Regions from separate parts of the Homo sapiens genome. Here regions 2 and 3 are each linked to region 1. The links come from fine-mapping of genetic effects on gene expression. A gene starts in region 1. Each other region holds a variant in brackets. All regions are shown on one strand. Distances are between the middles of the regions.

Evidence for each region. PIP is the estimated chance that this variant, and not a neighbour inherited with it, causes the effect.
Region 2: its variant is the best candidate, but not a certain one, in a credible set for the expression of TBCA in blood mononuclear cells (TOPMed, PIP 0.66).
Region 3: its variant is the best candidate, but not a certain one, in a credible set for the expression of TBCA in whole blood (INTERVAL, PIP 0.54).

What each region holds. Positions count from the first base shown.
Region 1 is chr5:77,774,889-77,777,652 of GRCh38, forward strand. TBCA (tubulin folding cofactor A) reads right to left here and starts at 1,451. Exons shown (of 4, transcript NM_004607.3): 1 at 1,317-1,451. The coding sequence starts at 1,369. RefSeq lists an enhancer at 1-30 and silencers at 1,048-1,217, 1,338-1,597.
Region 2 is chr5:77,796,983-77,799,746 of GRCh38, forward strand. No RefSeq gene overlaps it. Among named protein-coding and RNA genes, the nearest start is that of TBCA, 22 kb to the left of the region's middle. The variant G/A (reference allele first, on the strand shown) is at 1,597.
Region 3 is chr5:77,869,471-77,872,234 of GRCh38, forward strand. No RefSeq gene overlaps it. Among named protein-coding and RNA genes, the nearest start is that of TBCA, 95 kb to the left of the region's middle. RefSeq lists an enhancer at 2,413-2,764. The variant A/G (reference allele first, on the strand shown) is at 1,149.

The DNA of each region.
Region 1 (2,764 bases):
AATCACTAAGCCAAAAAGAAAAGTCAAGCTGGGAATTGCATCGAGCAAACCTGCCTCTCATTTTATTCCTGAATAAGATAGCTACAAAGATTAAAAAAAAAAAAAAAAAAGCTACATACCTCCCTGACAATTTGCCCCCAAGGAAATTCCTTGTGGGCCTCAAGACCTTCACTCTAAAACAGTTCTGTTGTATTTCACCCTGGCAATGTAAATTGATAGCTTATCTTCACAGGTATGGGACAAAGAACAGAACTCAAAGTCACCCCTCTACCCACCTGAGACAAATGCGTAACTGACTGCTTCCTCTGCCCTACTGTGTATGTAAAATCGCAGATTCATTTAGCCGACTAAGGCATAAGTGACTATTCTTCTATCCCTCTCTCACATGTAAATTGTGTATTAAGTGAAAAGCTGATCAAAGACTCAAAAGAATGCAACCATTTGTCTCTTATCTATGACCTGGATGCCCCCCAACCTTCTAGTTGTCCTGCCTTTCTGGAGGGAACCAAGGTACACCTTACCCATTGACTAATATCTGAGGTCTCCCTAAAACGTATTACACCAAGCTGTGCCCCAACCGCCTTGGGCACATGTCATCAGGACCTCCTGAGGCTGTGTCATGGGCACGTCCTTGGCAAAATAAACATTCCAAATTAAGACCTGTCTCAGATACTTCTGGTTCACAAGTTATTTAAACAGCATCTCACAGCCTCTGGGGCGAGCTTCGGGGAATCTGACTGGAGAAAGTGAGGCCACATAAGTTTGCTGAGTGTGCTAGAAGTTCAGGCCCAGTTCTCAAAGCCTGCCAGTCACGCCAGCCATGTTAGGTCACACGGCTCCACTACGGTCTTTTTTGACGAGGCCCAGATCCTCCGCATCCCCCTAAACTTCAGAGCCTGCTTTCAAGCCCATTTGAGAGCACAGCTGGGATCCCGCTTCCCCGGGCCAAGTTCAGCAAGGAGAGGCCGGCGCGCGCACACAGGAGGCACGGGATCAGGGCCCGGCCCGCCCTCGCAGGCCGCGGCCCACCACCTTCCCACCGCGGGCGCCGAGAAACCGGGCCACCGCCGACTCTTCCGGCAAATCAGAGCGGCCAGTGAGCGGAGAGGGACGGGAAGCGGCGTGCGAGGCTGGCGGGCTCGGGCGTCAGCGCGCCCCGCTGGGTCCCTGCCAGTCCCAGCCAACTGCGGAGCCCCGGGTGCGGCCTGGAGTTCGGAGCCCGCCTCGGGCCTCCTCGGGCCTGCGCTCCGCTCAGCCTCGCGGGCCGCCATGAGGTGACGAAGAGGAGGTGCAGGGCGCCGCTCCCGGCTCCTTACCGCTTCACCACGCCGGTCTTGATCTTGATCTGTCTCACGCGAGGATCGGCCATGGTCCCTCGAGCGCCGCGAGAAGGAGGGGCGGAGAGCCGGGGTAACCGTGGAGGGCGACGCGCAGAGGCTGCGGCTATTTAGGCGTGGTCGCCGGCGCGCATGCGCAGGCTGCGCGGCCCGTCGTCCCCGCCACGCCCCGCGGGGCGGGTTTACTAGAGGGCGGTACCCTGCTCCCGCCAGTCCCTTTACCCCTCGTGCGCCCCTTTACCCGTAGTGAAACGTGCCCTCCTCCTCTCTCTCGGACTGCCCCTCTTTTTACTTCAGGCGCAAGTTACACTATCCCGGTCTCCACAGCCTGGGCCTTTGGGGAAACTAACGTCTCTCTGGGACGTTGCTTTGCGGGATTATCTGCTTAATGGACGGAGTGACCTAAAAAATGTATTAAGGGTATTTTCGATGTCGTTATCTGGTGTCAGATGAGGCAGAGTGATGCATGTGTAGTGAAACAAACTGCCATCATGCACGCAGTCAAGAAAATCCTTGCCCTTTACCTCAAATCCCTGCAAGAAGGTTTGTAGATAACGTGCCTTTCAAAGGAAATGACTAACAGAACTTCTTCAGATGATCACTTATAGTGTATCCTAAATATTTAACTTACAAGAATGTGTGTCGCACACAAAACCTTGGGCTTCCTAATCAGACAAACCGGCTTACAATCGAGGTTCCACCCTTTAATAGCTAGACTATTAGCTAGACAACACTGATACGTATGCTGTTTAGCCTTGCAGCTGATCAGTCTGCAAAATGGAAATAATAATGTCCATTTTACAGATTAGGTATAAGGGTTAAAACACCTAGCTCATTGTCTGACGCATGGTAGATGCTGAACAACATTTGACTATTTTATATGTTCAAAAATATATTTGTTGCATAAAATGAGGCACATCTACAGTGAGCTCTAGCAGTCCCTTCCTAAGAGAATCTCCTGAGGAATACAGGGCAGAATCGCCCTTTTTAAAATTGCTTTTCTTTTTCTTTTTCTTTTTTTTTTTTTTGAGACAGATTCTCACTCTGTCGTGCAGTGGCTTGATCTCGGCTCACTGCAACCTCCGCCTCCTGGGTTCAAGTGATTCTCCTGCCTCAGCCCCTAGAGTAGCTGGAATTATAGGCGCGTTCCACTATGCCTGGCTAATTTTTTTTTTTTTTTTTTTTTGTATTTTTAGTAGAAACGGGGTTTCACCACGTTGGCCAGGCTGGCTAGAACTCCTGACCTCAGGTGAGGCCCACCTCACCCTCCAAAAGTGCTGGGATTACAGTCATGAGCCACCGAGCCCACCCCCTTTTTAAAATTTCTTGGTACCATCCTTCAAAGACACCCATATGACTGTCTTTTTCCTTCCCTAGCCTGACTTACTCATTCTCACTTTCATGACTGGTCCTGGAATCCCCTTCTA
Region 2 (2,764 bases), 22 kb after region 1:
TGACAGTCTACTCAGAGTTACTATTTACCACTTTAAATAAAATGCAAATTCGTTAAAACCACATAAGTCTTTTTATCCTCCCACATTAATGTTACAGTTGTCATTTGAAGTATACTGTCGTTTGTAGAAAATGATGTCTAGGCATCTGGTGACTTGGGAGTTAATTTACAGTACAAAAAATCTCAGGTAATTAAGAGGGCTGTGAGAATGAGGCAATACAAAGATTAGAACAGAGGTTTTATTAGTGGTAATGTTAAGACTGTAGCAAGGAACCAGGAATTAAATGTTTTGGATACACAATGTCATTTGCTTCAAATAGCTTCAGTGCACTGCTTGGGAAAGAGGAGTGTGTGGGTGGTGAGTGGATTGCATATCTTGTAATCATAGTACTCAGAAAGGCTTAAGATTATCTTGTTACTTCTCTGTATTATTAATGTTGAAACACCCTCTAGAAGAAGAAGGTGAAAGGAGCAATTTCCCTGAAATAAGTGATGCTTGGCTTAACTCGCAAGCACAAAAACAGACAATTATTTCCATAAACTCTGTCCTGAGCTACATCTACAAAACCTATACCTGTGATGATGGAGGGAGGTTCCAGATTTCAGAGAAAATGAAAGAAATTTGTGCCATAAGCAGATGATCAGGTAATAGGGTAAACTGGGACATCCTTTCTGAACTGGGACATCCTAAATAAACCCAAAGCATGTACAACACTTAGCAATATACAACAATCTAACCTTGAATAATTACACAATTTTTCAATTCAAATTTTGATTTAAACCCCAGGACTAGCTTATTTATTTGACATAGCAGCTAAATTGTTACTTCTCTTGGAGACACCTTTGGCTTCTAGCTGCTCAAAATATATCTCAAGTTGCCCCTCCTTTGTCCTGAAGGCAGCCCCAGAATCCTCCCAGAAGTAAGCAGCTGTCAGGCCATGCTCTTTTCCCCTAGAATATCCTTTCAAGACTCTCCTCAAGCCAAAATAATAACCTTTCGACATCTCAGGTCTAGGAAAGTTCTAAAGTAAGCAATCAATACCATGGAAACAATCCTTTGACATCATTCCAGTAAATCCATCTTTGGGCTATGCAGCTTGTTTTACTGTAATGGTGTTATTTTGGGATTTATTGGCTTCCAGAACTGAGAAAAAGATATAGGAGCACTTTGAGCAAACTGCTCAGTTATGGAGAATGGGAAAAAAACCTCAAATATCTACACTATGTGCTGCTCTGTTGTTATTTCTTTCAGTTTTCTTATATTTTGACAAATTGTTTGATGTGAATTCATATTGTTTCTGTTTTTGTGAATCATAAACAGATCCTTAGACATGAATAAATATCTTTTTGCCAATGTGAATGAAAGAAAGCAGAAAAATTGCAGCTCATATATGCATCTGTATCATTCAAGACGGAAACCACATCAGTTATTTGAACAGAGAGAATATAATCCTTATCTAGGTATAAAGTTGTTAACAAAGTAAATGAAAGGGAAAAAAAAAGATGTCACAAAGGTAGCAACTGCAAGAAGCATTTACTACTCCTAGAATTGGGGAACAAAGGAAAGAAGTTAAAATTATTTGCATTTAGGAACTCA[G/A]AGGAGGAAGCAGAATTCTGAAGTGAGGACATCGGGCAGCTTATGCTGGTTCCTCTGAGAGGGTACAATGAATTTGATCCTGCAATATAGAGGAAAAACCCCAAACAGAATTAAGCTGCTGCCACAGAAAGGAACTGAAGCTGTTGGAATAAAGAACTGATGCTAGTGTGATGCCCACAGGAACAGGAAACATTCAGGAAGCCCACAGGAAGGAGTCTGTTTTTGTTCCTCTAGCATTGCAGCCTCTTGACAAAGTAAAAATGTGTATTTTAGAATTCTAAACCTAGCATCACATTGCAGACTATTGAAGGATAAGTGTGGATGTGAGAGATGAAAACTTAATAACTGACAGAACATCCCAACAACTTATTATCATTGCATTTAAATTAAGCAAGATGAAGATAGCAGATAGGCGATTTGGCTGCCTCATGTAGGGCTGCTAGGGCATTACCTTGAAAGAGCCCCCTTAGTCCAGGATTTGGTCCTCAGCTCTCTAGGCGCAGAAACTCAAGTTTGTCAGAACATCAAGAACTGACAAAGCTCAGATGGATGGACTCACATGATCCAACTTACATGGGACCATTGAACAATCCCAAATGCCAAAGTGTTCATTTATAGTGAGAAATACTACTACATAAATGTTTAAACTGGTGTATGCATTCCTTCATTTGTAGGAAAATGTGATAGTCAGAAGGTGGCTGATGGTCATAAAGTGAGAGTGGGAGAGTTGGTTGTCTGAGCTTCATAGCACAATTGTCTGACATATCTGACTCCATTAGAGAGATGTACTAGGCAAACTGACCAGATGCTCACATCAGCTAGTAAGCCTCCTCACCATGTGTATAGAGCCAGCAGAGTCCCCCCAAGTCTCAATCTTTCTCTCCTCTTTTCTTGGCTCCTGGCTGAGACCAGCCTTCTGTCAGCATATCTTTTCATGTAGTTAATATGTGGTTAGTTACAGTTTTATGTGTCCAAGACATACAGTCTTGGACAAGTTATTGAATCTTTCTGTTTTCTCTTCTTTAGATTGGGGACAATAATCCCTATTTGATGGGGCTTTATATGGATTAAAAGCAGTAGTCCATATACGTACTGATAGGAACAGTGCCTAACACACAGAAAGCTCCCAAAACATTCAAGTTCGATTCTTATTTTTACTCCTACTTTG
Region 3 (2,764 bases), 95 kb after region 1:
GAAGGGGAGTGTGGCATTTTCTTACCATAGCAAAACCCTGTGTTTAGCTTTCGTTAACATTTACAAATATAGCCCTTTTTTGGTGACAGACACCTTGACTGGGGGAAGAGCAGGCGGTCGGGGAGGGTTTCAGCCATATGCAGTTTCCTTTCTCTATTGCAAGGCAAAATATTTTAGCTGCCGTGTTTTTATCCAATTGAAACCTGCATCTCTAAGTTCCAGTCAATGCAAAACAGGATAAGCAAAGTAACTGTCTGCCACGTTTATCTGTGTATCTATAGAGATATTTTCAGGTTATTGTCAGGGTAAACCAAATGCCAGTTCAGATCTGTGATCAACCATTTTGCGTGATCCCAGCCTTAGTTATCCACAGACAACACACGTTCAGGCTCTGATGCATGTTAGATTGGGTGAACAAATAGTACATAAGAGACTGGTCTGGATTAGCAGGGAGCTTTGTTTAAAAAGACACTGTATGTCAGCCTAGCAGTTAATCCATTAAGTAAGAAATGGCAACGCTTCTCCAATGGCACCAAGAGAGACCTCTTTTAAATACATCAATATTTCAAACTGTTTTGCTCATCTGTTATAACTTTTCTGTTTCCCTTTCATGGGTTGCCATATATCTCGAACCTTTTTGAGGGGCCAAATGAGACTCTGAAAAGCAGAGGCATTAAAAAGAACTTTTAAAATGAAAGTAGCCCCTGAGGTGTAGAGGCCTCTCTCAGGCTGAGTCCCTTCATTCTGCAGCCTTCCTAGCAGGGTCAGGGGCTTCTCAGTGGAGGTGCTCACAAGAGGGAGGCCAAGATCCCAAAGCCAGAGGCCTAGATTCCAGATCGTACTCCGCCTCTTTGTAGCTAGGTCAAGTTCCACTAAGAAGCCATGATGAACTTTGCTTTTCAAATCTGTAAAATGGATGTGCTAATGCTTACTTCTCAAGTATGCTGTAAGGATCCAGTCTTTTAATGATGTGAAATGTGATACAAACCCCATAGCATTATAGAAGACATTATTAACAGAATGCAGTTGAAATCCTAACATCCAGGATCATAAACTTGCTCACCTATGTGGTTCAATGTCATATTTATGTACCTCCCACCTAATTCTTTTTTTTTTTTTTTTTTTTTGAGGCGGAATCTCGCTCTGTC[A/G]CCCAGGCTGGAGTGCAGCGGCACGATCTCGGCTCACTGCAAGCTCTGCCTCCCGGGTTCACGCCATTCTCCTGCCTCAGCCTCCCAAGTAGCTGGGACTACAGGCGCCCGCCACCACGCCCGGCTAATTTTTTGTATTTTTAGTAGAGACCGGGTTTCACCGTGTTAGCCAGGATGGTCTCGATCTCCTGACCTCATGATCTGCCCGCCTCGGCCTCCCAAAGTGCTGGGACTACAGGCGTGAGCCACCGCGCCCGGCCTCCCACCTTTAAATTAACTACAGTGGTTCTCAAACCCTAGGGTGTGCAGTGACAACATGAGGAGCTTGTTAAAAATGCAGATTCTTTTTAATGACTAAGGGGTTTTACTCTAAAGCAGAGGTGTCCAGTTTTTTTAGTTCCCTGGGCCACACTGGAAGAAGAAGAATTGTCTTGGGCCACACATAAAATAGACTAACACTAATGATAGCTGATGAGCTAAAAAACAAGCAAACAAAAGTCATAAAAATTTACAATGTTGTAAGAAAGTTTAAAAATTTGTGTTGGGCCGCATTCAAAGCTGTCCTGGGTCATGTGCAGGCCACACACAGGCCGCTGGTTGGACAAGTTTGCCTCTCAAGTGATACAAATGTTTTGAAAGTAGATAGAAGTGGTGGTTGCCCAGCGTGGTAAATGTACTAAAGCGTTTAAAAATGCTTAGTTTTATATTATGTGAACCTCAACAAATGATTTTTAAAATGCAGAGTCCTTGACTTGTCCCTCTTGGATTCCGGTTCAGTTTGATGTGGTGCCGCAAAATTTTCATCTTAAAAAATCCCGCCTCACCTCAGAATTTCCCGAGGCATTTTAACATAAGGCAGAGGCAATGCTGATGTAGGTGGTCCAGTGACTATGTTACTTAGAAATATTAAGAAAATACCACCTGGGAAATAAGGAACTTAATACTTTTTTTCAGATGGGGAAAAACTAAGAAAGAGTTAGGCATCAATTAACTCTGTTAAGTTGTGTGAAGAGAACAGCCAGAATTGAGTTGGGAGAAACAGACTTTTGGTACACAAATGTTGCTAGCTTTCAAAGTGTTTTACAATCTTTCCTAAAAAGTTTCTTGCAAAAGTGAACACAGAGCAAGTCCATGGCCCACCTAAGGTCATGCCAAGTGCAGACACTACTTTGGAAAATAGCTTTTCTCAACAGGCAGATGCAGGCCTGACTCATTTCTGAAAATAAAATTAACGTTAACACGAGAAAAGGTGCTCTTACCTCTGTCTACTTGCACGATTGTATAGGGTTGAAAGCCCTCGGCCAAGGTTACAGAAACACCACGCGTTTAGAAAATAGCCATTTGGTAGCCACTTTGCACGGGCTGGAAGTAGCATGATCTAGTGGTCTTTGCCTTGGATCAATTTGTGCTCTGGAGCTTCGATACCCACTAACTCAGAGCATGCTTTTAACAGTTATCTAACTTCTCATTCCTGATCTGCCTTGCAGGAATGCAGGGAGCCCAAGCAATGAATTCCTTAAGAAGTCTTAGTTTAACATAAGGCAGGGCTATCAGTGGCTGGCCCAGGAGCCTCCTTAATGCCTCTTACGGTGTCAGAACTCTCTCCTAATCAAGAA